Linked DNA regions of Homo sapiens. The protein of the gene in region 1 interacts with the protein of each later gene in a biochemical or structural test. Each region holds a gene or a part of one and is shown on either strand. Other genes may lie near its edges.

Region 1 (4,087 bases):
TTTATTCGCACATTAAATAACAAGGTCCAGTGGCAACTATGTCATTTCAAAGTAGTGGTGCGAACAATGATCACAACCGTCACCTGATATCAAACACCTGGTTTCTGGCCAGGTGTGGTGGCTCACTCCTGTAATCCCAGCACTTTGGGAGGTCGTCTCTACTAAACCACGTCTCTACTAAAAATACAACAATTAGCTGGGCGTGGTGGTGCACATCTGCAGTCCCAGCTACTCGGGAGGCTGAGGCAGGGGTTTCGCTTGAACCCGGAAGGTGGAGGTTGCAGTGAGCCAAGATTGCATCACCACGCTCCAGCCTGGGCAACAGAGCTCGACTCTGTCTAAAAAAAAAAAAAGAAAGGTTAAGATTTGGACTGTTGATGGGGATAGGAGTTAGGATGGAGAATTTTGTTTCTTAAAAATTGTCTGGCTAAGACATTGTCATGTAAAAGATTCCAGGGGAAATATTTAAACCTTGGACTAATTAAATAACTTTATTTTTAAAGGAGGTTTCTCTAGAAACTCATTTAATCTACTGCCTATAATGGCTACAAGTGGAAAGTAATAAAACTGCATTTATTTTAAAAGAAAATTGCATAATTTGGACCTCTCACTAATTTATCCCAGTCTCCTTTTTAGGCTCTTCCTGTGAGAATGCTGAGGTTTTACTGAGCCAATTCCTTAGTGCAGGACTTGTTAACCTGGAAGACCCTGGGAGTCTGGGATAGAATTCAAGGGCTCCATGTCCTCTGATGGGAAAAATTAAAATTTTATTTCACTAACCTCTTACTAAAATGTAGCATTTAATTTTTTTAAGAACACAGGTAACAAACCAGAGTAGAAGTACAGTGCCTGTGACTGTCTCTGGTAGAAACTAGGTATTTCTTTTTTTGTTTGGTGGGGAAACCGAGTTTCACTCTTGTCATTCAGGCTGGAGTGCGGTGGCGCGATCTTGGCTCACTTCAACCTCCGCCTCCCGGGTTCAAGTGAGTCTCCTGCCTCAACCTCCTGAGTAGCTAGGATTACAGGCGCCTACCACCATGCCCAGCTAATTTTTATATCTTTAGTAAAGACGGGGTTTCACCATGTTGGCCAGGCTGGTCTTGAACTCCTGACCTCAAGTGATCTGCCTGCCTTGGCCTCAAATATTAACCTTTCTGAAGATACACAGTCCCTGTCCCCCTCCCTCAACCAAAAAGGAAAAAAAAAAAATTGTGTCACCTTCCAAGAATCTACGGTGAAAAAGTCTCCAATTACTGGAAATGGAGTACAAAGACACTCATAAATAGAGATGCCACTATCTTCAAGGCCATTCTGAACACCTGCCATTGACGCCCATATCAGGACTGAGGCTGGAAGTCATCCTCTGTCAGTTCCCACCCTGCATCTTGGCACTTTTCCTCCTCAATCTCTCATCACTTCTGTCCTTTCCATGCTCTACCACGCCCTTGGCTGGGTCCCCCTTTGGCCATTCCACCTCCACTCCCTACTATCAGGGCCATCTTTCTCAAATGCAGACCTGACCAGGTCACTCTCTTGCTTCAAATCCCTTAGAGATGGCTGCCAGCCGAGAGGCAGAAGAGAGCATGGGCTTGGGAGGTGGCCCTGTCTCCCAATGGTCAGCTACCACTTACTGGCAGTGTCATCGGGGGCAATGCTGGGATCATGATGTGCTTTGCAGGGTAGCTGGCAGTTTGCAGCTAACATGGGACATGTTTTTGAGGGCCTAGGCATGCACAGGCCCTCAAAAAATGGCTGGGGTTGTTATTCCTTCCACCACTATAGTAAAAGTCTGAGCTCCTGAAGCAGGCATGCCAGGCTCTTCAGGGTTGAGACTGGGAGCATCTGGCCCTCTACTCCTGCTTTCCATTCCAGCCTCTCCAAACTCCTTTCAGATCCCCCAGGCCTCCTGTTGCTTGCCTCTCCTGACTGCACTGTGACAAGTGCCATTTACTCTCCCTAGAGTTCGTTCCCCAGCCTCTTCTGCTCTTCCTGGCCTCCCCATCTCCCATAAACCTTCTCTAACCGGTCCTTCCTCCTCCCCATCACCTCGCCCACAACAGGATGCTTCTCCTTTAACCCATTTGGGTACCTGGTGTCTGTCTCTATCACCACCCTGCATCTATCACCCAGTAAGCAATCTGTTCACATGTCCCCAGCAGTACAAAAAGCATGGGCTCTGGGTGGACAGGCCTTGTTCAAACCTCAGCACCAGCATGTCTTGAAGACATTTGTTTCTGAGCCTCAGTTTCTCAACTGCACAACAGGGCAACAACGGCATGGCATCAACCTAGTTGGGCTGTCGGGAGGGCTCAATGAATCCTGCATGCAGAGAATTTCTGCATGGATGCCAACTGTGGCACCTGACACTGGGATGCTCACTACAGAACAACCGCGTCTTCTCTTATGCCACGCCTTCTCTTCTGCCACCACAACAATGTAAACTCCTCTGGGGTAGAGACCAAGTCTCTCATATCTCAGAGCCTTCTGTGCCTGCTCAGTGCAACGCAACAACACAGCACTGCTGGGTGAACTCAGATGTGGAACACCCTGCACTTGTCTGTCTTTAGCTACAAGGTACTGAAAAGTGCAGTTTAATAATCTGTTAACCTGTAATAAGAGCAGCAATAATGACAGATAGTAAAGTTGAAAAACAAATGCAACCTGACCAGGAAAACCTATATAAAAGCCTAGGGAACATAATGATTTGTTTTGACTGAAATATAAACCATGGCCAAAATCCTAAAGGTATAATGTAAAAACACAGTTCTCTGTGCTTTCAAAAGAAATAGGATTTGCTCCAGATTCCTAACAGACACCACAGTGAGCTCGCCGGACACCTTCCCAACAGGTTCCAGGAATCCCTGCAGTGGCCGCAGATCCAGACTGTCCACAGTCAGCCTGCTAATACCCACAAAGGCATTTTTATTGTCACAGGCCATTTGCAACAGACTGAAAGGCCTCCCCTTCTGCTGCCAGCCATGGCTGGTTTGAAAGCATTCACATTTCCTCTTCTTTTAACATGTCTTCATGGACTCCGGGGTCAGCTGACACCAGAGGCACTGGGCTACCCAATGACAGGCAATTTCCCCAGAAAGCCTTGTTAGCCATTAGTATTTTTATTGCTGATCTGGGTAAATGAACATGACCCTCCCCACCCTCATGGTATTTTGGCTTCAAAAAGCAATGCCTAATTGTATTCACGGCCTGTCTTTAAATACAATTTTAAGGTATTCAATGAACAACGCTATTAGCTAAATTTGAGGGCTTGTAAGACAGATAAAGACTAGGTTTCTATAGAGAATTTAAGAGTAATGAGGTTAAAGTTTATGCAACTTAATGTGATAGAATAATAGCTAATACTTACTGATCCCGTATCAAGTGCCAGCACTTCATCTGCACTGAATCCCTATAACCTTATTACGTAGACTCTATTATGAAGGCATTTGAGGGCAGGAAATGGAAACAGAGAGATGTGAAGTTACTGATGGCCTCTCTCTCCAGCTACCCATCCATACATCAGCTGCCTGTCCATCATCTGTCTCCTGCGCTTCTCTTGCTCTCACTCATTCTCTCTCTGTACCCACCCACCCCAGCCCCACTGGCCATCCTATTCCTCTTTGTCTCCCTTCTCTCAGTCTTCCTTCCCTCCCAGCTTGTTTTTTTTTCCCTTTCCTGTCTCAACCTTTTTGTATTTGTCTCTCAGTCTCTGTCTCTATAGATTTCCCCCTTATGTCTCCCCTTCCTCCCTCCCTCTCTCTCTCTCTATCTCCTTCCCACCTATTTCTCTCTGTCTTCCCTATCACCAGTACTCAACACACGCAATATAACAAAAATATTTATGGTGTAACATGGTAAAGAAAGAAGGATTTGAAAACCAACTTTTTTTTTTGAGCTGGAGTTTTTGCTCGTTGCCCAGGCTGGAGTACAATGGTGAGATCGCGGCTCACTGCAACCTCTGCCTCCCAGGTTCAAGTAATTCTCCTGCCTTAGCCTCCTGAGTAGCTGGGATTACAGGCACTCCCCACTACGCCTGGCTAATTTTTTATATTTTTAGTAGAGACAGGGTTTCAGCATGTTGGCCAGGCTG
Region 2 (4,087 bases), on another chromosome or scaffold:
CCACTTACAGCTTCTGCCATTGTCCTTCACCACTATCTCAGCATCTCGGTCCCTCACGATGTCCCTCCAGTCAATTGTGTCCATGTGACAAAGCTTATCGTTCTTCTCAATATAAACACCCCCTGACAGAATCTCTGAGGTAGGGAAAGAAGTGACAGGGTTAAGGGCCGCAGCGGAACGCCTCTTCCTTACCTCTCCACCCATCCAAAAGGACACCTGAGACTCAGGAGTGGGAGAATGAGGCAGACAGATAGGTCCAATTAAATCTAAGCTGCAGAGAAGACTCCCTTTATAAGATGAGGAGTCAGGCCAAAAGAAACTCCTGCCTCCTCAGTCACCTGTCCAGATCCGGTTTAGCTAGTGGGGGAGGGGAAGGGAGAGAGGGAGAGATTTCTGACTCAACATTCCCTCCCCCAAGCCCTGCCCATATGTTTTCCAACTGACTGGGACATGGAGAAGCAGAAGATGGACAGGTGGTTTTTAACCCCTATATTCCTCCAGCTCATAGGGGTTTGGTTTAGGAGAGTAAAGGTAGAATTCCTAGGGAAGGAGGGACATCCAGGTATACTGTACTTTGGTTTTTTTTTTTTTTTTTTTTTTTGGAGTCTCGCTCTGTCGCCCAGGCTGGAGTGCAGTGGTGCAATCTTGGCTCACTGCAAGCTCCGCCTCCCGGGTTCACGCCATTCTCCTGCCTCAGCCTCCCGAGTAGCTCGGACTACAGGCGCCCGCCACCACACCTGGCTAATTTTTTGTATTTTTAGTAGAGACGGGGTTTCACCGTGTTAGCCAGGATGGTCTCGATCTCCTGACCTTGTGATCCACCTGCCTTGGCCTCCCAAAGTGCTGGGATTACAGGCGTGAGCCACCGCGCCCAGGCTTTTTTTTTTTTTTTTTTTTTTTTTTGAGACGGAGTCTCACTGTCACTTACGCTAGAGTGCAGTGGTGCAATCTCAGCTCACTGCAACCTCCACCTCCCAGGTTCAAGCGAGTCTCCTGCCTCAGCCTCATGAACAGCTGGGATTACAGGTGCGCACCACTATAGCCAGCTAATTTTTTATTTTATTTTATTTTTTTGTATTTTTAGTAGAGACAGGGTTTCGCCATGTTGGCCAGGCTGGTCTCAAACTCCTGATCTCAAGTGATCTGCCCTCCTTGGCCTCCCAAAATGCTGGGATTACAGGTGTAAGCCATCAGGCCTGGCCTCCGGTACACTGTACTTTGAAATTAGAAAAACGGTTAACAGATCCAGCTCTGACTCCAGCCCCACAAGGACACAGGGTTCCTTTCCCTGGAGCAGATGCCCCTAGCTCCCCCTACTGGGGGCCCTCTATTGCTTAGGGAGCAATGGACCTTTAGACAGCGGCCAAGGTGACAGGCACCTTGGAAGAGGCACTTAGAGTGAGCAGTCTTGGGTCATCATCAAGGAGGTACCAGTCTTGGGCTGGCTGAGGGGTGAGGCCAGAAGGAACCATCGGGAACTGACCGGTGAGCTGAGTCAAGCGGAGCTGGCGCAGAGCGTGGCTGGAGTTGGTGTTATAGTTCAACATGACGAAGATGGCAAACTTCCCATCGTAGACCTGGGTCCCTCGCACCACGCGGAGGTTGGGCAATGGTAGAGTAGAGAATTCATTCATGGCCACGAGGACATAGCCTGTCACTTCTCGAATCCACTGTGACAGAGCAGATTATGTAAATGAGAGAGACAACAGGGCAAAATAATCTCAATCTCCTCTCCTCCTTCAGGCATTAAAGACTCTTTAACTGTTTTAATTCTTCCTTCTTTCTTTCCTTTCTTTTTTTCTTTTTTTTAAAATTTGAGACGGAGTTACGCTCTTGTTGCCCAGGCTGGAGTACAATAGTGCGATCTTGGCTCACCACAACCTCCACCTCCCGGGTTCAAGCAATTCTCCTGCCGCAGCCTCCCAAGTAGCTGGGATTACAGGCATGTGCCACTACACCTGGCTAATTTTGTATTTTTAGTAGAGATGTGGTTTTTCCATGTTGGTCAGGCTGGTCTCGAACTCCTGACCTCAGGTGATCCGAGCTTGGCCTTTTTTTTTTTTTTTGGTGAGACAGGGTCTCGCTCTGTTACGAGTGGCACAATCTCGCTCACTGCAGCGTCAAACTCCTGGGCTCAAGCAATCCTCCCACCTCAGCCCTCCAAGTAGCTGGGACTACAGGTGCATGCCACCATACCCAGCTAATTTTTGTATTTTTGTAGAGACAGCGTTTCACCACATTGCCCAGGCTGGTCTTGAACTCCTGACCTCAAGTGATCTGCCTTCCTTGGCCTCCCAAAGTGCTGGGATTACAGGCATGAGCCACTGCACCTGGCCTTAACTCTTGCTAATTCCTATTTGGGAGTAGGGAGTAGACTGTGTCACACTGCTGTGTCACTTCTGGGAGTGAAGACAGGCAGCTTTCTCCTCAAAGTGCCTCATACCAGTAGGGCCCCTTCCTCATCTCCCCAGGTAACCTCTTGGTCCTCAGGTTTCTCTCTGCACTAGTCCCTGCTGACCTTGCACTATCCACAGAACACCACCTGCCCCTGACCCTGCCCCCTATATATCCCTGGCTACAACAGTGAGACCATAGGTCCCAGATGACAGCCACTGTCCCCATAAATACACGGTTTTGAATCTTAGGAACTCCTGAGTCTTAGGAAGGGTGAACTCCAGCAGAAGGTAGCCCTGAAGAAGGAAGGAGGGTTCTAGGGGAGAATAAAGAGGAGCAGGTTGAGGAAGGAGGGTGGGCTCACTAACCTGCAGGAAGGAGAGGTCGGCATTGTGTCCCGTGAGCACAATCTCAAGGTTCCCCATCACCACCTCACACCTCTCGTAGAGCTTGTACAGTGTCTGGTATTGGTTCTCAGCATCGCCGGTCACACTCAGGCCATTCAGAGTCCCAGGACACACTGTTCAAAGCAGAGGGAAGAGTGGCTGAGGGCTGGACACAAATTCTCAGCCCATCTGCCATCCCCAAAGATCACCCCCTTGGTTGCCCTCTTCCAGTTACATTAGACAGGATCAGATGGCATTTGCCTCCAACCCTCCCACAAGCGATAGGCAGAAGCTGTAGTGGCCTGAGAGCTTTCTCTCTTCTCAGAATCCCCTTACCATTCCATGAATGGGAAGGTGAAAAGATTTCCTTTTTCAACCTGGGACCCCTCTGTGCTTCTTTTGGGTACTAAGGGGTTAACTGAGAAGGAAGACAGGGAATTTGTTTCTCTCCCTAGAAAAGAGAAGTTAGGAAAAGGCCGCAACTTTGATTACCCTCCTCTCCCCCTCCAACTAGGGCACTCACTTCTCTACCCTCATCCTGCCTCTCTCTAGGTCCTGGAATAAATATCTCTTTGGGACTAGTACACAGCCCCTATTGTGTCTACTGAGGGTGGGATGGGGGCAGAGGGTGGGGGCAGTGCCTGGGGCCACAGTCCAGCCCACAATGAGGCGATTCTATCCAGGAGGGGGGCTGCCCCACCCTGTCCCTAGACACCCCGTCCTCAGCAGCACTCCCCTCCACCCTCAAGCCTTGGGCTCAGACAAGTGACCTCAGTAGAGGGGGGAGCTCTGGCAGTGCTGGGGTGAGGGGGGGTCAATGGGAGCTTTGTCTTTAAAGCTGAAAGATAAGGAGCTAGTTGCCTCCCCGCCTTCCTAAACTCAGGGTTTCCTTCTCACTCTCTCCCCCATCCCAACACACTCTAGCAACCTCAGCATCACTTTCCAGCCCTAGAGTATTTTTCAGCAAATACAGAGGAACCTGGAGAGAGATAGTAGCAGATGCCCCATATTGAGCCTCCACACAATTTCATTGTTAGAAGAGGTTCATGAAAAAGCCTTTCACCATGGCAATCCTCACCCACACTAGGGGAGAGCCTAGACTAGAGGTACATGGCATGTCAGCCTTGGGAGTTCACTCTTCTTTGCAAATGTGGTGGACAACGGGCTATGGGAAGTCCTGGACTCTGAAGCCCTACCCCAGTCTCTTTCCTCTGGTTCAGGGAAAGACCATGTGTGGGGTGGGGAGTAGGGGGTAGATACCACCTGTTCCAGCCACCCTTCCCTGAGGCGGTGGTAGCTCAGTGGGA
Region 3 (4,281 bases), on another chromosome or scaffold:
GCCTCCCAAGTAGCTGGAACTACAGGCGTGAGCCACCTTGCCCAGCTAACTTCTATATTTTTAGTAGAGATGGGGTTTCACCATGTTGGCTAGGCTGGTCTTGAACTCCTGACCTCAGGTGATCTGCCTACCTCGGCCTCCCAGAGTGCTAGGATTACAGGCCTGAGCCACCTTGCCCGGCCTATAACAGATGTTTGATAGATGTGCTGAGTGGACATATAAATCAGCCCCTCTGCTTTGAAGGACTACAGAACCTGGTGTCTGAGCCCTTTGTCCTGTAACAAGGCACTTTCCCTGAGCAAGTCTGAGTTTTCTCATCTGTAAAATGGGGCTAGTGAGACTGGTCTTACACTGGCCTATCATTGTCTGCCTTGCCTGGAGGCTCTGCCCCAGGATCATAATCTTGTTGATGCTGATTTGGCCTGGACCCCTGACCAATCAGTTTCTTTTTTGTTTTCTTTTCATTTCTTTTTTTTTTTTGAGATGGAGTCTTGCTCTGTTGCCCAGGGTGGAGTGCAGTGGTGTGATCTCGGGTCACTGCAACCTCTGCCTCCCGGGTTCAAGTGATTCTCTTGCCTCAGCCTCCCCAGTAGCTGGGACTACAGGTGTGTGCCACGACGCCTGGCTAATTTTTGTATTTTTAGTAGAGACGGGGTTTCACCATGCTGGCCAGGCTGGTCTTGAACTCCTGACCTCAGGTGATCCACCGGCCTCGGCCTCCCAAAGTGTTGGGATTACAGGCGTGAGCCACCAGGCCCAGCCCAGAGTTTCTTGAGAAGAAAAACCACAAGACCCAGGCAGCAGCTCCCTGTGGTGCCCCATCACTGGGGAGGGCAGGGAGGGGGTCAGGTCATGCTGAGCCTGGCAAGGGTGGGAAGGGCTTGTAGAGGCCCCAGAGCCTCATTCCCATGAGGCCAGTTGTACATCCGGCCCCTGGGATCCTCCGAGCACCCTCTACAAACATTCCAGGTCCTTCCTCTGGGACTGAGCTTGACACATCCCGTGTTTGATTCCCAGAACCGAGTCCTCCCTTATACTCCCCAGGTTTCTGCCTCACTGTCCCTCACTCCTGGTTATCAAACTCCAATCAGTGAACAACATTTATTGAACACCTATGGCATTTGTGCTCAGCATTGGACTGTGTGAGGCACTAGGGGTGAGTGGTGAAACAGGGAGGGGAATAGAAGAGCCAACGGGACACTTCCTATCAGCGAGAACCTTGGGAGGGCGTGGAAGTGGGGAGGGAAGAGCTGCTGGTGGCCTAGTGACAAAAAAAATGGGAGCCGTGCAACTGGGCTGTATCTGGACTGCTCATCTGAAAGTCAATGTCTGGCTGGGTGTGGTAGCTCACGCCTGTAATCCCAGTACTTTGGGAGGCCAAGGCGGGCGGATCACCTGAGGTCGGGAGTTTGAGACCAGCCTGGCCAACATGGGGAAACCCCGTCTCTACTAGTAACACAAAAATTAGCCAGGTGTGGTGGTGCACACCTGTAGTCCCAGCTACTCGGGAGGCTGAGGCAGGAGAATCACTTGAACTGGGAGGCGAAGGTTGCTGTGAGCCGAGATGGCACCACTGCACTTTAGCCAGAGCGACAGAGCAAAACTCCATCTCAAACAAACAAACAAACAAAAAAACCCAAAAAGCCAATGTCCACGATTTCTACCTCCCAGTTGTCATGTCTGACATTTGGGCTGACGTCCCCTCTGTGCTCAGTGCCCGAGGAGAGAGCCTCTGGGGTCATCCTCCATAAGGGGACAATTCCTTCCTTCCTGGGGATGGCCCCCAAGAGGCTGGCCTTACCCAGACCCCAGAATCTAAGGGACCTGGGGGCCAGTGGCCTTGGCCCCTGCGCTGTCCCCAGGTTGCCTGATGCTGCTGGACTGCAAGGCCCGGGACCCCCTCTGCTGCTGCAGCCTTGGAGGCGCCCTCACCCCTGGGTGGTCACCCTCTCGGCAGATTCCCGGGCCGTGCACACCCCCTCGTGGTTGGTGGTCGGCACTTTTCCTTGTTTGGATTTGCTGCCTGCTCTGGGCTTCCTTGGGGGCTGCCCCGGCCTTTGTGGGTGGCTTAGAATGGAGGGTGGAGTTGGAACCTGATGCCCTGGTTTGGGCGGGGGAACCCTTAAGGACTTGCTATATGACATCCTGGGAGTCACTTTCCTGACCCTCAGTGGGCCCAACAAGTCATGGCCAAGTAAAGCTTTTGTGAGGGCCAAGAGTTTAGTGCAGAGAGCATGGTTTCTGAGCCCCCTCTCCATTCTGGAAGCTTATCTGCCAGCTGGTGGATCTCCCCAGAGATGCTGGAGGGCCTGGGAGGACTCCAAATCTTGGGGAGAGACTGTAACTTGGGTACTTTCTCCCCAGGGCCTGATTTCCAGGGGAATAACCTCCCTGAACTGGGCATCAGCAGGTGGGAGCCCTGTCTGGCAGAGAGCGGACTCCGGGAGAGAGTTAGCAGCCCAGCTCTCTCCCTCCCTTTCTGCCATGAGCTCTGCTTGTAGCAAAATCACCCATTTTGATCACTGGGACACTTCTGGGAGCCGAGCAGGGCAGCAATAGTGTCCCCACTTTACAGATGAGAGTACTGAGGCTTGCAGGTGCAGGTCCTTCTGGTGTCCAGGACAGGGGTGGGCCCCAAGCCTTTGCTGCTGTTCTGTGGCCTCTCTAAATCCTCCTGACACCTAAGAGCCATTGGAACCTTTTAGGGTCTGGAAGTCCCAGCCTGGTGGGAGATACTTGGGTGGAGCCCTGCCTCAGCCATGCCCATGAGGGGAAGGGTAAAAGGAGCTGAGACCGTCACCCTCCCCACGTCAGAGGTTGGGCATCTGTCGGATTCGCCCCCACTTGGCACACCCTCATTGCAGGCTGGCTCACCCTCAGCTGGGGGAGAAGAACAAGAGGCAAGGGGCCTTGGGCACACAGTCTGGGGGCCCCCGAAGCCCCCTCATCTTTATTCCAGTTCCTCAGATGTGGCAGTTCCCCCAGCTTCCCTGGAAACAAGTATCAGACAAAGGTGGTGGCAGACACAGGACAGGGCCCTGGGTGGGGCTTGCTGGCGCTAAAAGGATTTCTCAGCAGGCTCAGGGTCTCCCGCCCCGAATGACCCTTCTGGCCACTTCAAGCTACTCCTCTGCTGCCCGGCTTCCCTCTGCCTCTGGTTCCCCTGGCTGAGCAGGGCCTTCCTGGGCTTGACCCTGGCCCCCTTCAGCAGTTGTCTCAGACTGTTCCCGAATGTCCCTGGGGCTGGCTTTGACCCCAGCATCCCCATCTCCCTGGCACCCTTGCTCCTCCCCTCTGCTTCTTGCCTCTGACTGCCCACTGCCCTCCTCCTCTGTCACAGCCCCCTGGGTCTCAGGCCACTCCGCCCGGCGGTAGACGAGGTAGCCAGTGGTGGGCAGCCTGTGGGCCAGGGCCCCAGGGGGCAGGCGGTGGTAGCCCTGCTCCTTGTACAGGAAGAGGCCAAAAGTGTTGGGCTGGGTCACTCGGAACTTGGTGGCACAGAGCTGGTTCAGGGTGGCAATCGAGGCTTCTGGGGGCACGGCCAGGGTCTTGGAGGTGCAGCCACTGCTGGGATCCTGATAGGCTACTCGGAGGAGGTGCTATGCAGGAGGAGAAGCAAAAACAAGTACTCAGCCCCGGCTGGCATGCATCTGGCTCCAAAGCTGAGACATCAGCTTTCTGGGCTGTGCAGGGACAGGGTGGGTAGGTGGAGATCCAGTGGGAGAACCAAGCGGCAAAAGCTCTATGTGCTCCAGGGGTCGGCTTGTGGGCCACAGCCGCAGGTGCAAGGACAGCCCAGTGGGGCGCTCACAAGCCTGAGATGAAGATTTGATAGTGAGTAATTTGTGCCCCAAGCACTCTCCTGCATTAACTCATTTAATCTTCACCTCAACCCCAGGAGGTAGGTCCTATTACCCCATTTTACTGATGAGAAAACTGAGGCACGAAGTAGTTAAGTAACTCGCCCAAGTCCCCACAACCCAGTGGCAGAGCCAGGATTAGAACCCAGGATCTGTCTACAGAGTCTGGACTCTTCACCAAGGACAGGAAGGTGAAAGGCGGGGATGGCGTCTGGCTCTGAGGACACGGTGGAGGGCCTGTTACCTGGAAGCAGTGGGTGGCAGGCAGGCGGCGCTGCTCCCAGAGGCTGAGGGAGCGCCGTAGCTCCTGCACGGGGCTCAGTGGGAGGGTGTGGGCCTGACCCAGGCCACTCAGCAGGGCCAGGCTGGCAGAGAGGCTGGTCAGGTAGTAGCCACCTGGGACACAGGGTGGAAGAACACG
Region 4 (4,087 bases), on another chromosome or scaffold:
TAAACTTAAAAACACATTGCAGGCCAGGAGTGGTGACTCATACCTGTAATCCCAACACTCTGGGAGGCCAAGGTGGGAGGATCACTTGAAGCTAGGAGTTCAAAGACCAGCCTGGGCAACAAAGTGAGATCCCTCTCTACAAAAAATTTAAAAATTAGCTGGGTGTAGTGGCACATACTATGGTTCCAGCTACTCAAGAGGCTGAGGTGGGAGGATCACTTGAGCCTGGGAGATCAAGGATGCAGACTGCAGTGAGCCATGATTGCGCCACTGCACTCTAGCCTGGGTGACAGAGCAAGACCCTGTCTCTTAAAAAAAAAAAAAGAAAGAAGAAAGGCCGGGCATGGTGGCTCATGCCTGTAACCCCAGCACTTTGGGGGGACAGAGTGGGTAGATTACCTGAGGTCAGGAGTTGGAGACTAGCCTGACCAACATGGTGAAACCCTGTCTCTACTAAAAATGCAAAAATTTGCCAGGCCTGGTGGCACACGCCTGTAATCCCAGCTACTCCGGAGGCTGGGGCAGGAGAATCGTCTGAACCCAGGAGGCAGAGGTTGCAGTGAGCCAAGATGGCGCCATTGTACTTCAGCCTGGGCAACAAGAGCAAAACTCCGTCTCGGGGAAAAAAAAAAAAAGAAAAAAAGAAAAGCACATTTCTCAAGGGGATCTTAGCTTTATTGTTAACCTTACATTACAAGATTTAGGGAGTACTTTCTATTGCTTTCAATAGAAAGTTTCTATTGAAACTTCAGAACAAGTTTCAACTTACTACCTAAACAAATGGATCTTCTAAGTATTTGTATAAATCTCATACTTCATAAAAATTTATACTCCATTACCACTGGAAAGTGGCCAAGAAGATACACTCTATAGTCCTCAGTTGGGCAAAGTAATTTAACTATTTGAAGTTCTCAAGGTCCAAGGTTGTAACAGGGGGCACATTAAGACGATCTCTGGTATCACTAAAGAAGATAATCTAATATTGAATCTTACAATATTGAAACAACCATCAGGTATGCCCCATTTAGGCTGTCAAATCACAAGAGTATTCGAAAAATCCCAAAATCACCTCTCCTACCAGTTTTGTGATGCGATCTAATACCAGTTATCCCATTTATAACTAATCAATACTGAGCACTGAATCTATAAAGCATGTAACTTCCTGTAATTTTTCAAGGCTTCAGTCTAATTCTTTTACTGATTTGAAAAGCAGAGCTTAAATAGGTTTTAAAGTATTAAATAAGTCATAATCACTCACCAAGTTTTACTGGACTAGGTATTTTTTTTTTCAGTAGGAAAAGGAATGGCTTGCAGACAGAAGCTTTTAGTTGAGAAGATGAACATTCATGTTGAGAAGTGGCTTTCAAGTTCCTACAGAAGAGGTCCACATGTCCGTGTTCAGAGAAAGGTTCTGTTAAAGAACTTGTCAGATAAAACATGCCGTGAAGAGTACAGACAAGTTGACCAAGTATAGAAGCAAATTCTTTCTTGACAATGTCAGAATCATCTTTGACTTTATCTCTGGGGAAAAAAAAGAAAAAGTACTAAACTTTCTTGCCTAATTTTGTGGTCTAAATAGTCTTGCTTAATTTGGGACAAAAGTACTGGTAAAACAAAGCCTAGAAGGAAAAAATGTTAAATTCTAAAACTAAAAGCAACATTTGCTTTACATATTCAACAATAAACACAACCCTGCATACATAGCCAGACAATTATGATCTTTCCAATAGAGTGATATATTCAAATTAAAATCTTAGTACATACATAAGAATCTTGGGAACTCTGTTACAAGAATTCTGCTGCTGCAATAAGATAAAAAATCCACTAACACAACTAGCCCGGATTACTTCATGGGAGCTCTGCAGGGCCCAGTTGTAAACTGCTGTTCTCCACTCAAGGAATATTCTTCTTGGAAACAGAGTCAGAAGAAACACACATCGTGATTGTGCCTGTGGTGCTGAAAAAATTAAGTCTATTAAACAAGATTTCTACTAATGTTAATTTTATGTATACACATATACATATATATAAGTAAAGTAACATTTGTGTATACATATATATAAATAAAAGTCAAGTAACACTTAAAATACATTTAATACCTAATTTAATTAAAAGCTCCTTTTCAGAAAATAAAGCAAGTGCACTGAAAAAGGTCTATACACAACCTTACTAAATAATCAAGGAAATGCAAATTGAAAATCATACCTACCAGATAGGAAAAAGAAAAAATTTAAGATACTTAACTCCATGACATTTTTTATTTTCTAGATAGCAAAAATTTTAAAGTCAGCTAAGTGTCAGTGAGGATGTGGAACTCATACTCTGCTAACAGGAGTGTAAACTGGTGTATCTTTGGAGAACAATACAGCAGAATAGAGGTGAAGATGTGCAAACTCTATAACCCAACAATACTACTCCTAGGTAGGTAAAAACGTTAAAATAATGCTTCTCAAACTTTAATATGGATATGAATCACCTATCTTGTTAAAATGCAGATTCTGATCAGTAGGTCTGGGTGGAGCATAAGATTCCCCATTTCTTTCTTTCTCTCTCTTTTTTTTTAATGTGCTCTTTCAGCAGAATCAAAGACGCTCCATTTCTAACAAGTCCCTAAATGGTGGCGATGCTACTGGTCTGTGGAGCATACTTTTCAAACAGCAAGGACTTAGAATGACTAAAGAATCATTTATAAAAATATTCATTTAAATGTTGCTTGTAATTGTGAAAAGTTGGAAACAACTTGATTGTCCACCAATAGGAGGTCTGATAGTGTCCATCCAAATTTGGCTACTATTTGGAAGTTTAAATAAAAACTAGAGTTACCCATATCACCATGGATAAGTCTCATAAAGATAGTGTTGATCAACAAAATGTAAGCTGTAAGAAGCAAAACAATTTCTTATATTATTTATAAATAAATACATATATAGTAAAAGTAATAGAACATTCAACAGAACAATCAACACCAAATTCAGAACAGTAGTAATCTCTGGGGAAAAAAATGAGGGGAATGAAATCATAGAGGGACAAAGGCTTCCATCATATCTCTAATAGCCCAGGCTGGAGTGCAGGGGTGCAATCTTGGCTCACTGAAACCTCTGCCTCCTGGGTTCAAGAGATTCTTGTATCTCAGCCTCCCTAGTAGCTGGGACTACAGGCGTGAGCCACCATGCCTGGCTAATTTTTGTATTTTTAGAAGAGATGAGGTTTTGCCATGTTGGCCAGGCTGGTCTCAAGCTCCTGACCTCAAGAGATCCGCATGCCTTGGCCTCCCAAAGTGCTGGGATTACAGGCGTGAGCCACCGTGCCTGGCCTAATGTTTCTATTTCTTAAACTGAGAAGTTGGTATAAGAATTTTTGGTATATTGTTCTTCTTTTTAAAATATTTCTCAAATACTTCCTAATTTTATTAAATGAAGATAATGATATGTAAGGACACATTGCAAATGTTTTACAAAAAGAAAGGAAATGGGATATGTGGGGCAGGCTTTTATGTGTTACTTTTTATGTATCTAACCCCCTTCTGAACTATTAAAAATGTACCTGCTCTTTTAATTATTGAAAAAAATATAAATAAGTCTTAGAAGTCCTATATAGAGATGAGTTAAAACAAACCACACAAGGCCAGGCATGGTGGCTCACGCCTGTAATCCTAGCACTTTAGAAGGCTGGGGCAGGTGGATCACTTGAGGTCAGGAGTTCGAGACCAGCCTGGCTAACATGGTGAAACCCCGCCTCTACTAAAAATATAAGAATTAGCTGGGTATGGTGGTGCGCACCTGTAATCCTAGCTACTCAGGAGGCTGAGGCAGGAAAATTGCTTGAACCTGAAGACGGAGGTTGCAGCAAGCCGAGATTGCGCCACTGCACTCCAGCATGGGCGACAGAGTAAGACTCCGTCTCAAAAATAAATAAATAAATAAATAAATAAATAAATAAATAGATAGATAGATAGATAGATAGATAAATAAAACAAACCACACACACATTCTTGTGAGCACTTACAATAGCTATCTGAAATCCTACAGCTTAATGTTAGAAGATTAGCGGCAAATGTGGTCAACTTTAAACAGCCATCATCAGAATG
Region 5 (4,087 bases), on another chromosome or scaffold:
TTCTTGCACAATGAGGTGTGTACATTCATTCATTTTCAATTGTCCCATGTATTGACCTCCATGCTTAACTGTGAGTTGCTGAACTTCTTTCCTGTCTAAGCCACATAAGCCAGTCACACAGATTATGCAACCAAGAAAAATAGGACACTTGAAATCTTCCATGTTTATATCAGTATATCTAGTTATTTTTCTGTGGGAATCAAATGGTTAAAAAAGAACATATTAAATTTACCAGAAGAATAATGAAAAACAACACAAATATCACTATTGCTTCCCTCATTTTTTAGGATTTATAATCTTTTTTTTACAAAGGAGAACCACCAAAACAGAATTACACTAATTGTTCACCTAGTTCAATAACATGTCTCTAAAACAAAGTAATTGTTTCAGATACAGTCTCTCAAAACCATTTTAAGGGAAAAATATATATTTCCTTAACTCTAGCCCTTGCTGGTCATAGTATATTTTCCAAAATGATAAGTCTGAATCTCTACTTAAAAACCCAAAGGTAATTTGGTTGCCTATTAGATAAATGAACTTTTTAATCTTTCCATTATTCTATACAAGTAAAAGCAATGATTTTTGGCAAAATACCAACAAAAATATCATTATTCTGTTGCCATGCTAGGGAGGTGTGCTGATGAAGTAATCACATTGGGAATGAGAGTTGCTGACATGGAGACATATTTGGGATATGCTGGATGGTGTTGAAAACAAGCCCAGAAAAGTGCCGATATAATTCGTATGCCAATACAATTCTGTGGTGTTTGGTCTTGTGGTTGTTTATCTAGTTGCAGGGGAAACTGAAGTGTGCCCCTTGAAATAGGCTCTAAGCTCCATGAGGGAAGTGACTATCTTGTTTTGCTTACTACATATACCTAATGCCTACCTCAAGTCAGATACGTAAAATGGGCTCAATTAGCATTTATTAAATGATCACATCTCAGCTGATGACTTGCATATGTTTATATTCAACCTTACATATGCCATCTTTTGGAAGGAATGCAACTGCCAAAATGACTAATTTATTATCTATCTTAACATATGGGAATGGTGTTGAAGGATAATGCAACATAAAAGCTACAGAATTGCCAAACTCGTTTTCTCAATTATTTCAGAAATATTTACAGCTGAGAACTTTATCACCAAAGCATTTCCTACTCTGTAGCTAATGCTAAACCCTTGGCCCATTCTATGCCTGTCAACTTATATCTTGGTAATAAGAGCTTGTAGATTCTGCTCTTCCGTTTTCGCTGGAGAAAAGAGTAATGACACTATTTTTTTCCCTGAATAGTAAGTCCAAAGAGTATATCACATGCCAAAAATGATTGAATGCATCATTTTTTCAAATCTAGAAAATATAAAAATGTCTTTCTTACTTCTCTTGTGACTTCTCCCAAAGTGTTTTTATCCAAGAGGGAAGCAAAATAGGTTTCTTCAGGTTTGCAGCAACTAAATATTTTTTGCTACCAACTTCTCCTGCAATAAGGTGAGTTACTGATACATTAAGGTCTCTGTATACTCGTCCGCCCATCATTTGTACATATTTATGAACTTCTTCCTGCAGCCCCAAAAGAGAACACATTAATGCTGAAGCAAACAATATTGCTTCCACTTTTATACACTATCTCATAAATACATTTTGCTGTTGACAGTTTGAATACATAAGTGTTACATAACATTATAAAGTTAAATAATTAACCAAATTATTTTTTGGGAGATAAGTATGAATTATATTTTTAAAATATTATTTTCCTATATTTATCCCTTTCAACTCCATGAATGTATTAAACTATTATACAAAGGATGTATAAATCTTAATCTTTGCTTCTATATAAATATACATGTGTATTTTTAACAACATAAATTATATCTATATAATATATAAATATTTATTTTTAGCCAGGCTTGGTGGTGCATGCCTGTAATTCCAGCTACTCGGGAGGCTGAGGCATGAAGATTACTTGAGCCCAGGAAATCAAGGTTGCAGTGAGTTGTGATTGTGCCACTGCACTCCAGCGTGGGTGACAGTAAGACCCTGTCCCAAATATATATATGTATTTCTATAGCTCTCTCTTAGAATGCTTTTTTTTTTTTTTTTCCAAAACGAAATCTTGCTCTGTCACCCAGGCTGCAGTGCAGTGGCGTGATGTTGGCTCACTGCAACCTCCACCTCCCTGATTCAAACGATTTAGAATCCTTTTTTTTAAAGACTGTCCACCTATAGTGGAAAAATGTAAGTGATTAAAAAATGAGTGTCCTTTTAAATTAAAACAAAAAATTTCAATTAGCCAGTTTTCAACAAAACAAATTCTACTATATTCAATTTACTTAAAAAATGTACATGTATACATATATACACACTGTGGTTGTATACTGAACTTTGTTAAAAGTCACGAACAATAAGCGGAAAGTCTTTTAAGCTATCTTCTATGCAGTGAAAAATTAAGAATAAGAGATAGATATATAAATTGATCAATCATCATGAGATCAATATCTACCCTTTTTTCTTTTTCCAGACTTGTACAAGATATGGTTACATCAGACATAACCATATTATAAACTGGATGTTCGGCTCTTGGGACACATCGCTGGTGGTGCATACAAAATATGACTACTTGAGGACCAACAATTCTGCAGCCAAGCTACAAAAAAGAGAAAAGTTTAAATGAGTTAAGAAGGAAAAGACCACCAGTCTTACAAAATTACATTTTGTAACATTCACCAATTCTTTACCAAAGTTGATGACCACTGTAGAGAAATCAGCAAATCATTACAAGAAAAAAATAAAGATGACTATATAATTTCTCAGAGATACTATACATTAAACACTCACACACAAAAGCAAATCAAACAATGCAAGCTATCAAAAGAAATAAACTTCAGGCCAGGCACAGTGGCTCACGCCTGTAATGCCAGCACTTCAGAGGAGGCCGAGCGGGGGTGGATCACCTGAGGTCAGGAGTTCGAGACCAGCCTGGCCAACATGGTGAAACCCCGTCTCTACTAAAAATACAAAAATTAGTCGGGTGCAGTGGCGGGCACCTGCAGTCCCAGTCTCTAGGGAGGCTGAGGCAAGAGAATTGCTTGAACCCAGGAGGCGGAGGTTGCAGTGAGCTGAGATCACGTCACTGCACTCCAGCCTGGGCGACAGAGTGAGACCCTATAACAAAAGAAAAAAAAAAAGAAAAGAAAAGAAATAAACTTCAAAAGCCCCTTTCACTGAAAACTGCCTTACTGCTTACATCTATAAGCCCAATATTTTGGGAGGCTGAGGTGGGAGGATCACTTGAGTGCAGGAGTTCAAGACCAGCCCAGCCTGGCCAACATCGAGAAACCCTTTCTCTACTAAAAATAAAAAAATCAGCCGGGTGTGTATATACATCTGTAATCCCAGCTACTCAGGAGGCTAAGGCACAAGAATCACTTGAACCAAGGAAGCAGAAGTTGCAGTGGGCTGAGCTTGTGCCACTGCACTAAAGCCTGGGCAACAGAACAAGACTCTGTCTCCAAAAAACAAAAACAAAAACAAACAAACAAACAAAAAAAGCCTACTGTAACATAATTAGCCTTTCAATCCTGGTCTTGCCAAACCAAAAGAATTCCAATGTACTCATAAGTTGCATAGTACTTTATAATCCGCAAAGAATGTATGTCCATTAAAGCAAAGATAAACCAAAAAATAGACTACCAAAGGTACACACTAGAAGTCAGCAAACCTTTTTGAGGTGATCAAAGACAACGCCACTAAAAGGGTCACAGATATAAAGTGATCTATCATTCTCCTTTATCTTCAATGCCTCTTCTTCTGTAATAATCTGAAGATATTCTTCTGATTGGAATTCTTTTATGGACTGAAAGAAAAAATAAAATAAGAATGTACCTGAAATTACTCTCCTGTATTTAGGTCCTATTCAAATTCCATCTCAAATCCAGCCTTTTCCCTATTGAAAGCCACCATCACATCTCACTTAGACCTCTGCAGAAGGCTCCCAAGTGGTCTCTTTTTCCCTTCCTTGCCCTAAATCTGTTCTCTACACAGCAGCTAATAATCTTTTCAAAAACACAAGTCAGATCATGTCACTAT
Region 6 (4,087 bases), on another chromosome or scaffold:
AAGCAGGTTAAAAATGTTTTTCCTTGGTGGGTGGGAAAAAAAAAGTTTTTCCTCATCTGCTTTTGCCATACAACTATTTTAATAATCCCATGTAGGAAATGATCATCCTCTGTTTATTATTATTATTGCCATTATTGGAGCAAGTCACATTTATTGAGTACTTATATATGTCAGACACTTTGTAAAGGCTTTATATATATTAACTCATTTAATTCTCACAAGAATCCTATTAAATAAGTACTATTATTACCCCAATTTGCAGATTAGAAAACTGAGGTACAAGGAAGTTGGGTAACTCCAGACAGCACATACTTCAGGGCCAATACTATTAAGCAATATTTACACATATCATATTGGCACTCAGTGCTTTGGTATAATGATTTCTCTAATAACAGAAGATGCTATACAATGAGTGCCCAACATCAAAAAGTACAGTAAAGGCCGGGCGTGGTGGCTCACGCCTGTAATCCCAGCACTTTCAGAGGACAAGGCGGGTAGATTGCCTGAGCTCAGGAGTTCGAGACCAGTCTTGCCAACATGGTGAAACCCCATCTCTACTAAAAATACAAAAAAATTAGCTGGGCATGGTGGCATGTGCCTGTAATCCCAGCTACAAGGGAGGCTGAGGCAGGGGAATTGCTTGAACCAGGGAGGTGGAGGTTGCGGTGAGCCGATGTCGTACCACTGCACTCCAGCCTGGGTGACAGAGCAAGACTCCGTCTCAAAAAATAAATAAATAAATAAATAATAAAGCACAGTGAGCTGATATTCACTAAGCAGGTACATGTCTGTGGGACACCACTGTAGACAAACCTTGGGGACACCAATGCCTCTACTTTATCCAGTGTGTATGCTGGGTTTACAGCTGAAGTAGCAACATAAGTTTGCAAAAACCAACAGGTAATGTTAGATAAAATATTAGATGTGATATTTTCAAAGCATTTGGATTGACAACCTAATTGTCCCAACTTGCTTTTATTTTCTAATTTAGTTCTCTCATTCATTTCCTCTTCCCTTTTTTCACTTGTCATTTCAAATTTAGAGTAGCTATTTCATTCATTTCCCACATACCTTTCTTGAATTCTATAGGAAGTTAAAGGCTTAATACTGGGATATATTAAATGAATCGACCACATGATGGACTGATAGAATTGTGATATATAGGAAAAAGTTTCTAAACTTCATTTACAAATTAATTTTCAAGACTAGTTTTACAATATCTTGTTAATAAATTACTAATTTCAAGGCTCTAATAAAATTGTTATTAAAAATATTTTAAAGTACATTTGTGTTTTTTTAAATAACAGTAAAACACTAATCCAGCCAATAAAAAAAACAAACCGCTGCACAGCTGGCATCCAACTTCTTGATCATTTGCTTGAGAATACTCAGGGCAAGACTCTGCTCCTTTTTTGCCCAGAATACTTGTGCTTCTTCCAGCTGCCACTCAGAGACTCCACAGCTAACTGAATTGTACTGTTTAATTTGAAATATTGCCCTTTCAGGGAGCTGAAATGAAAATGACATATGGGAATAAATACTTTTACTACTGATACTACTACCATGAATAATAATAATAATGAAAGCAGCAACTACCATTCATTGAGGACTTAACTACTTGTCAGGGACTATCTTAAGGACCTCTCTGTCTGCATGACATCTCCCCACCCCACGTCTGCCTATCTGTCTGTCTGTCTGTCTCTCTCTATATGTATGTATGTGTATCTGTGTGTACATACACACAGTATATAAAATCACTGAATTGTTATCAATATAGTAAGTTACGTATCTTCTCATTTTATAACCAGGAAATTGAGGTTGAGAAAAGATTAAGTACCCTTGCCCAAGGCTTAAAAGTCAGATCTAATTCCAAAATGGGAACTCTTAAACAATTATTTTTACTATATATTAATAGAGATCTCTATCTCTTAATGACATTTCTTTTTCCCTCAGGCTTTCTGTTTTTTAAATAATAAAAGGAAAGTCAAGAGGTAAGATGACATAGTTTTAAATTGTATTTACCTGAGTGTTCTTGAAAGTTCTGGCCAGTATAGAGAGTTCTACAAGGTGTTTGGTGAGAATGTCCTTAATACATTCTCTTTGTGAGTTGTCCATTTCCTTTTCCATCAGGATCTCCAAAATGACTGTGCGTAGAGCCATGATAGGCTCCTGAAAACTAAAATCACTGTCCTTGAGAAGCTGGGAGTGTTTCTGCCACTTAATATATACTTCAGAGAGTTGTCTATGTGTGACTGATCTGAATGCCACGACATAGAGTTCATGTAAGCAAGAGAAATGAAAAAAAAAAAAAAAAAAACTATGTAAGTTCTGGAACTTACGATATAATATTATAATAATACAAAGGAACTTTTGTAGTGACAAGACTAGAACTTGTAAATAATCCTACATATGGATCAAAATTTAGAAAACTACAAAATGCTATGCGGTCAGAGCTCTTAAGAGTTATTAGCAGAGAGGTCACAGATGACAAACATCAAAAAAAATTTTTAATACTCTGACATTACAAAAAGCAGCCCTTCTAAATACTCTTCTGAAACAAGAACATATTCATCAGACCTATCATAAAGAATGCCTCCATCTTTAGTCCTGCTTCAATACTGCCTGTAGTAATGAGGACATGTCAGCAAGGAAATGAGGGACCCCCTACTGGGGATGACTTGATGCATAATTATAGCTGTCAAAAAAATCACAATCCAGTGAAGGAAAAGCTGGCATCTGGCAAAGGTTTCATTTACCAACATTATTAAAGGAACAGAAAAGGCATATTGCACAATTAGTTTATATGAATAGTATCCTTCCCAAATAACTGAACTATGAAATACTACCCAATCCTTCAGGGACATTTATTGAAAGAAATAAGAAAGAGGAAGCAGGGAGAGTAAGATGACAAAGTGATGACTAAGAAATGAAAGCTCTTTTAGTTGCTTGATAGGGAAGGAACAGTAACAAAAATGCTAGGAACCAAAACTTCAATTCCTCTCTAAATGACCCTACCACAGCAGGTCTCAAACTTTTTGCGGAACTCCTTTACAATCAAACAAATTATTGAAGACCCCAAAGAACTTTCGATCGTTGGACCATATCTACTGATATTAGATATGATATCATATTAGAAAGACTGAGAAAAATCTAAAATGTATTAATTTATTCAAAAATAATAAATCTACTATATATCATAAATAACAATTTTTAGGAAAAATAACTACAGTAGTTTCTCTGTATCTGCAGAAAATTGGTTCCAAGACACCTTGATAATGCTGATGTTCAAAGTCCCTTATTTAAAATGGCAGGGCATTTTCCTATTACACGTAACCTCTAGATTGTGCTTTTATTAAACATTTCCAAAAAGTATTACACATAACCTCTAGATTACGTGTAATAGGAGAATGTGCACAGGTTATACATAAATCTCTAATTACATATTATACCTACTATAATGTAAATGCTATGTAAATAAGTGTTATACCCTATTCTTTAAAATTTTTTTTTCAAATATTTTTGATCTGCGGTTGGTTGAATCCATAGATGGAAACCTGTAGATAAAGAATTTCAACTGTATACTTCCCAAAACAAAACAAAACTTAGTGAGCATGGCACTGTTTTGCATTTTTGCAAATCTCTTTAATGTCTGGATTAACAGAACGAGATGAATTCTTATCTCTGCTTCTGCATTTAGTTTGTTATTATTTAATGTTTTGGTTGATGTATATGAATGGAATGTAATCTGAGAGCATAAGCATTTGTGCACCAGTTCATCCAACCTTCCCTCTGCTTCTCTTCTTCCTATTTCTCTACCAAAGAAACAGCCAGATTATTCTTTAGGTGTTTCTTTTTAAAATTTATTTTTAATTTTTATGGATACATAATAGTTGTACATATTTATGAGGTACGTGTGATATTTTGATACAAGCATACAATGTGTAATGATCAAATTTGGGTAATTGAGATATCCATGATCTCAAACATTTATCATTTGTGTTGGAAACATTCCAAATCTTCTTTTGTAGCTATTTAAAAATATACAGTAAATTACTGTTAACTACAGTTGCCCTATTGTGCTATCAAA
Region 7 (4,087 bases), on another chromosome or scaffold:
GGGCACCAAGAGTGAAACTCCATCTCAAAAAAAAAAAAAATCCACATAATTACCAAAGCAAAAGCCATTACGCTTCCCTTACCCTAAACCATATTTATAATCCCAAATGGTAAAAACGAACACAAACGCCTTTTTGTCTACATCTACTTAAGAATGAAGTAATATAGTTCTATTTTTTTTTTTTTGGGACGGAGTCTCGTTCTGTTGCCCAGGCTAGAGTGCAGCGGCGTGATCTCGGCTCACTGCAAGCTCTGCCTCCCAGGTTCACGCCATTCTCCTGCCTCAGCCTCCTGAGTAGCTGGGACTTACAGGCGCCCGCCGCCACACTCAGCTAATTTTTGTATTTTTAGTAGAGACAGGGTTTCACTGCGTTAGCCATGATGGTCTCGATCCCCTGACCTGGTGATCCGCCTGCCTCGGCCTCCCAAAGTGCTGGGATTACAGGCATGAGCCACCACACCCAGCCTATTCCTATTTTAATATCAAATGAGAATGGAAATTACAGTATTTTTTTTTTTTTTTGAGACAGAGTCTTCCTCTGTCACCAGGCTGGAGTGCAGTGGCATGCTCTTGACTCACTGCAAGCTCCGCCTCCTGGGTTCAAGCCATTCTCCTGGCTCAGCCTCCCGAGTAGCTGGGATTACAGGCGCCCACCACCATGCCTGGCTAATTTTTGTATTTTTAGTAGAGACGGGGTTTCACCACGTTGGCCAGGATGGTCTCAATCTCCTGACCTAGTGATCCACCCGTCTCGGTCTCCCAAAGTGCTGGGATTACAGGCGTGAGCCACCGAGCCCGGCCCAGATTTTTCATTTATTTTTTTTTTTTTGAGACAGAGTCTTGCTCTGTCGTCTCGGCTAGAGAACAGTAGCTCAATCTCGGCTCACTGCAACCTCTGCCTCTTGGGTTCAAGTGATTCTCCTGCCTAAGCCTCCTCAGTAGCTGGGATTACAGGCATGTGCAACCACGCCCAGCTAATTTTTGTATTTTTAGTAGAGACGGGGTTTTGCCATGTTGGCCAGGCTGATCTCGAACTTCTGGCCTCAGGTGATCCGCCCGCCTCGGCCTTCCAATGTGCCAGGATTACAGGCGTGAGCCACCACACCTCGCCCAGATAATAAATTATAGAAAGACACACATAAAAGCACTTATGGATCACACATACATGTTAAAAGGCTTGAATTCAATACATTTGTAAAGAACACGTCTTGTTAAATCCCATGAAAACTTTTAAGAAAAGGTAGAAATACTTACTTTGGTTGCCTGCTGGATTATACTATCCCACACTTGATTAGGGAGTAACATGTACTTTTCTATCAAGTGTTCTTGTACTGTTTGATCTGTTTGTGCACCAATCATGTACCCCACAGCTTCATAAAACGTATGAACCTATTTTAAAAAGCAGACATTTTAACGTTTATGTTATACACCCTAATAAGGAAAACCACACACAAGCAATTCACAAACGTCTTGAAACTGATTTTGGCCCAGGTGCAGTGGATCACTCCTGTAATCCCAATACTTTGAGAAGCCAAGGCAGGCCAATCACTTGTGGTCAGGAGTTGCAGACCAGCCTGACCAACGTGGTGAAACCCCATCTCTTCTACAAATACAAAGAAATTAGCCAAGCGTGGTGGCAGGTGCCTATAATTCCAGTTACTTGGGAGGTTTGAATTGCTTGAACCTGGGAGGCAGAGGTTGCAGTGAGCCGAGATTGCAATACTGCACTCGAGCCTGGGTGACAGAGGAAGACTCCACCTCAAAAAACAAACAAACAAACAACCCAAACTGGCCAGGCATGGTGGTGGCTCACGCCTGTAATCCCAGCACTTTGGGAGGCCGAGGCGGGCGGATCATGAGGTCAGGAGTTGGAGATGAGCCTGACCAACATGGAGAAACCCCGTCTCTACTAAAAATAAAAAAATTAGCTGGGCGTGGTGGCAAGCACCTGTTAATCATAGCCACTGAGGAAGAGAATCGTTTGACCCCAGGAGGCAAGGCTGCAGTGAGCCGAGATTGCGCCACTGCACTCCAGCATGGACGACAGAGTGAAACTCCATCTCAAAAAACAAACACACACACACACACACACACACACACACACACACACCCCAAAACAAAACAAAACAAAAAACACCTGATTTTGTTTGTTCGGAATAATTTTACATAGGACAACAGCCTAACAATCTTCTGGTCAAGAATCTGTCTCACTATGAAAATTTAACCAGGCTGGGCGTGGTGGCTCACACATATAAAATCATTTTGGGAGGCTGAGGCAAGCGTATCGCTTGAAGCTAGGAGTTCAAGACCAGCCTGGGCCACTTGGCAAAACCCCATCTCTACCAAGGGGGGGAAAAAGGTTAGCTGAGTGTGATGGCAGTGCATGCCTGTAGTCCCAGCTACCCACGAGGCCAAGGTGGGAGGATCACCTGAGCCTGGGAGTTCAAGGCTGCAGTGAGCCGTAATTGTGCCACTGCACTCAAGCCTGGGCAACAGAGTAAGACCCTGTCTCAAGGAAAAAAGAAAGAAAATTTAATCAGAAACACTTCTATTGGATCCAATAGTTGCCCTCCTATTTCCATTGATACATACAGATTGATACAAGTGTTACTTTCTAAAAATAACATATGCTCAGTGCTTAACATACCTGTTGAGGCTGAAGATCACAAATAATAGTGTTAATGTTGTTCAAAATTTCATCAATAAATGGCATCACTTCTCCAACCTGAACCTGAACGAAATGCCTGCGGCATTTTTGGGCTATTTTAATGAAAGTATCACAAGCCATATCCTGGACTCCATCATGGGTCTCTAACAAGACAAAAATATTCATTTATTTTGTCCTGGACTCCATCATGGGTCTCTAACAAGACAAAAACATTCATTTATTTTCTTCAATAAAAATAAAAGCAAAATATAGTAAAGAAAGAGATTTACCATGCATGAATTCGAACAGCTTGTTAACTACAGTCTTCAGAAATTTCCAGTGAGCTCTCAAAAAACGTGGGTATTGACCTACTATGTACATGATATTTGATGCAATAATAGCTTTATTATCTTTGCCTCTTTTCTGTTCACATAATCCTAATAGATCCTGTAAATAAGACAAATTTGTATTATTTATTGTAACAACATAATACTTATTTAGCAATTCTAATTCATACCTATCCCTTGCATACCTTTATAACAGTAACAAGAAATCGTTTTTCGTCCTCTTCATGCATTGCTCCACTAATGGAGCCTATTGCCCAACACAATGTATTCAAATTTTTCCATGACCACTCTGTACCATTCACTTGATTGTGAAGCTTCTCTGTCATTATTCTTTCTGTATCTACATAATCCAGATGAGTAAGATAAACTACAAAGAAAAACATGGTTTCAAATGCAAATAATGAGCAGAATTTTATTGATGAGTAACAATACATTTAGAAAATATTTAGAAACTACAAGTACATTTCCTAAAATGTATTTCCACCCCAGAATAGATTTATAAAGGTAAAGATTAACAGTATTTATTAACTTACCCAATGTTTCCCTCATATTCTTATACAAATTTATGGAATCTGTATCCTTCATGAATTCTCTCACAACTTCTCCTTGATCATTCTCTACAACCAATACTTCCTCTGGTTTAGCCATTCGACTAACCATTAATAAACGGACCTATACTCAACAATATATCAATCAAGAAAAAAATCGTTAGATCACTGAAATCATTAGTGTAGAAGCTTAGTTAAAAACAAACAAAACCAAAAAAACCACAAGCCAGCCATGTGTAGGGATTCATGCCTATAATTCCAACTATTCCGGAGGGCCGAGGCAAAAAGAACTGTTGTGGCCAGGAATTTGAGAGCAGCTTGAGCAACACAAAATGACACCCAATCTCTAAAACAATAAAAATACTGGGGCTTAAAGCACAACAGAAAAAACTATGTAAATATAAATGAAGTAAAACTAAAAAATTTAAAATTTGCTAGGCATGGTGGTGTGTGCCTGCAACCAATTACTTGGGAGGCTGACACAAGAGAATTGCTTTAGTCTAGGAGTTCAAGATTGTAGTGAGCTATGACCACGCCACTGCACT

What was found.
Region 2: the proteins of ABL1 (region 1) and ERBB3 form a complex in vitro, tested with the Homo sapiens proteins (2 studies listed by BioGRID and IntAct, with this or other methods).
Region 3: of the proteins of ABL1 (region 1) and RIN1, one has a biochemical effect on the other in vitro, tested with the Homo sapiens proteins (2 studies listed by BioGRID and IntAct, with this or other methods).
Region 4: of the proteins of ABL1 (region 1) and ATR, one has a biochemical effect on the other in vitro, tested with the Homo sapiens proteins (2 studies listed by BioGRID, with this or other methods).
Region 5: the proteins of ABL1 (region 1) and TOPBP1 form a complex in vitro, tested with the Homo sapiens proteins (one study listed by BioGRID).
Region 6: of the proteins of ABL1 (region 1) and ATM, one has a biochemical effect on the other in vitro, tested with the Homo sapiens proteins (3 studies listed by BioGRID and IntAct, with this or other methods).
Region 7: the proteins of ABL1 (region 1) and XPO1 interact in a test that uses a peptide from one of them, tested with the Homo sapiens proteins (2 studies listed by BioGRID).

Annotation. Positions count from the first base shown.
Region 1 is NC_000009.12:130,841,614-130,845,700, reverse strand, and holds part of ABL1 (tyrosine-protein kinase ABL1), read right to left. Parts: intron 1-4,087. UniProt on the Homo sapiens protein: Non-receptor tyrosine-protein kinase that plays a role in many key processes linked to cell growth and survival such as cytoskeleton remodeling in response to extracellular stimuli, cell motility and adhesion, receptor endocytosis, autophagy, DNA damage response and apoptosis.
Region 2 is NC_000012.12:56,082,578-56,086,664, reverse strand, and holds part of ERBB3 (receptor tyrosine-protein kinase erbB-3 isoform 1 precursor), read right to left. Parts: intron 3,352-4,087; exon of another isoform or gene 3,117-3,351; intron 2,915-3,116; coding exon 2,763-2,914; intron 1,671-2,762; coding exon 1,484-1,670; coding exon of another isoform or gene 1,353-1,483; exon of another isoform or gene 1,048-1,352; intron 135-1,047; coding exon 9-134; intron 1-8. UniProt on the Homo sapiens protein: Tyrosine-protein kinase that plays an essential role as cell surface receptor for neuregulins.
Region 3 is NC_000011.10:66,329,154-66,333,434, forward strand, and holds the end of RIN1 (ras and Rab interactor 1), read right to left. Parts: intron 4,257-4,281; coding exon 4,105-4,256; intron 3,600-4,104; coding exon 3,123-3,599; 3' UTR 1,088-3,122; downstream 1-1,087. UniProt on the Homo sapiens protein: Ras effector protein, which may serve as an inhibitory modulator of neuronal plasticity in aversive memory formation. Can affect Ras signaling at different levels. First, by competing with RAF1 protein for binding to activated Ras.
Region 4 is NC_000003.12:142,554,619-142,558,705, forward strand, and holds part of ATR (serine/threonine-protein kinase ATR), read right to left. Parts: coding exon 4,006-4,087; intron 1,958-4,005; coding exon 1,765-1,957; intron 1,522-1,764; coding exon 1,259-1,521; intron 1-1,258. UniProt on the Homo sapiens protein: Serine/threonine protein kinase which activates checkpoint signaling upon genotoxic stresses such as ionizing radiation (IR), ultraviolet light (UV), or DNA replication stalling, thereby acting as a DNA damage sensor.
Region 5 is NC_000003.12:133,655,297-133,659,383, forward strand, and holds part of TOPBP1 (DNA topoisomerase 2-binding protein 1), read right to left. Parts: intron 3,855-4,087; coding exon 3,720-3,854; intron 2,646-3,719; coding exon 2,502-2,645; intron 1,562-2,501; coding exon 1,380-1,561; intron 191-1,379; coding exon 1-190. UniProt on the Homo sapiens protein: Scaffold protein that acts as a key protein-protein adapter in DNA replication and DNA repair. Composed of multiple BRCT domains, which specifically recognize and bind phosphorylated proteins, bringing proteins together into functional combinations.
Region 6 is NC_000011.10:108,323,480-108,327,566, reverse strand, and holds part of ATM (serine-protein kinase ATM), read right to left. Parts: intron 2,258-4,087; coding exon 2,023-2,257; intron 1,510-2,022; coding exon 1,342-1,509; intron 1-1,341.
Region 7 is NC_000002.12:61,489,388-61,493,474, forward strand, and holds part of XPO1 (exportin-1), read right to left. Parts: intron 3,667-4,087; coding exon 3,528-3,666; intron 3,362-3,527; coding exon 3,180-3,361; intron 3,095-3,179; coding exon 2,938-3,094; intron 2,812-2,937; coding exon 2,648-2,811; intron 1,390-2,647; coding exon 1,255-1,389; intron 1-1,254. UniProt on the Homo sapiens protein: Mediates the nuclear export of cellular proteins (cargos) bearing a leucine-rich nuclear export signal (NES) and of RNAs.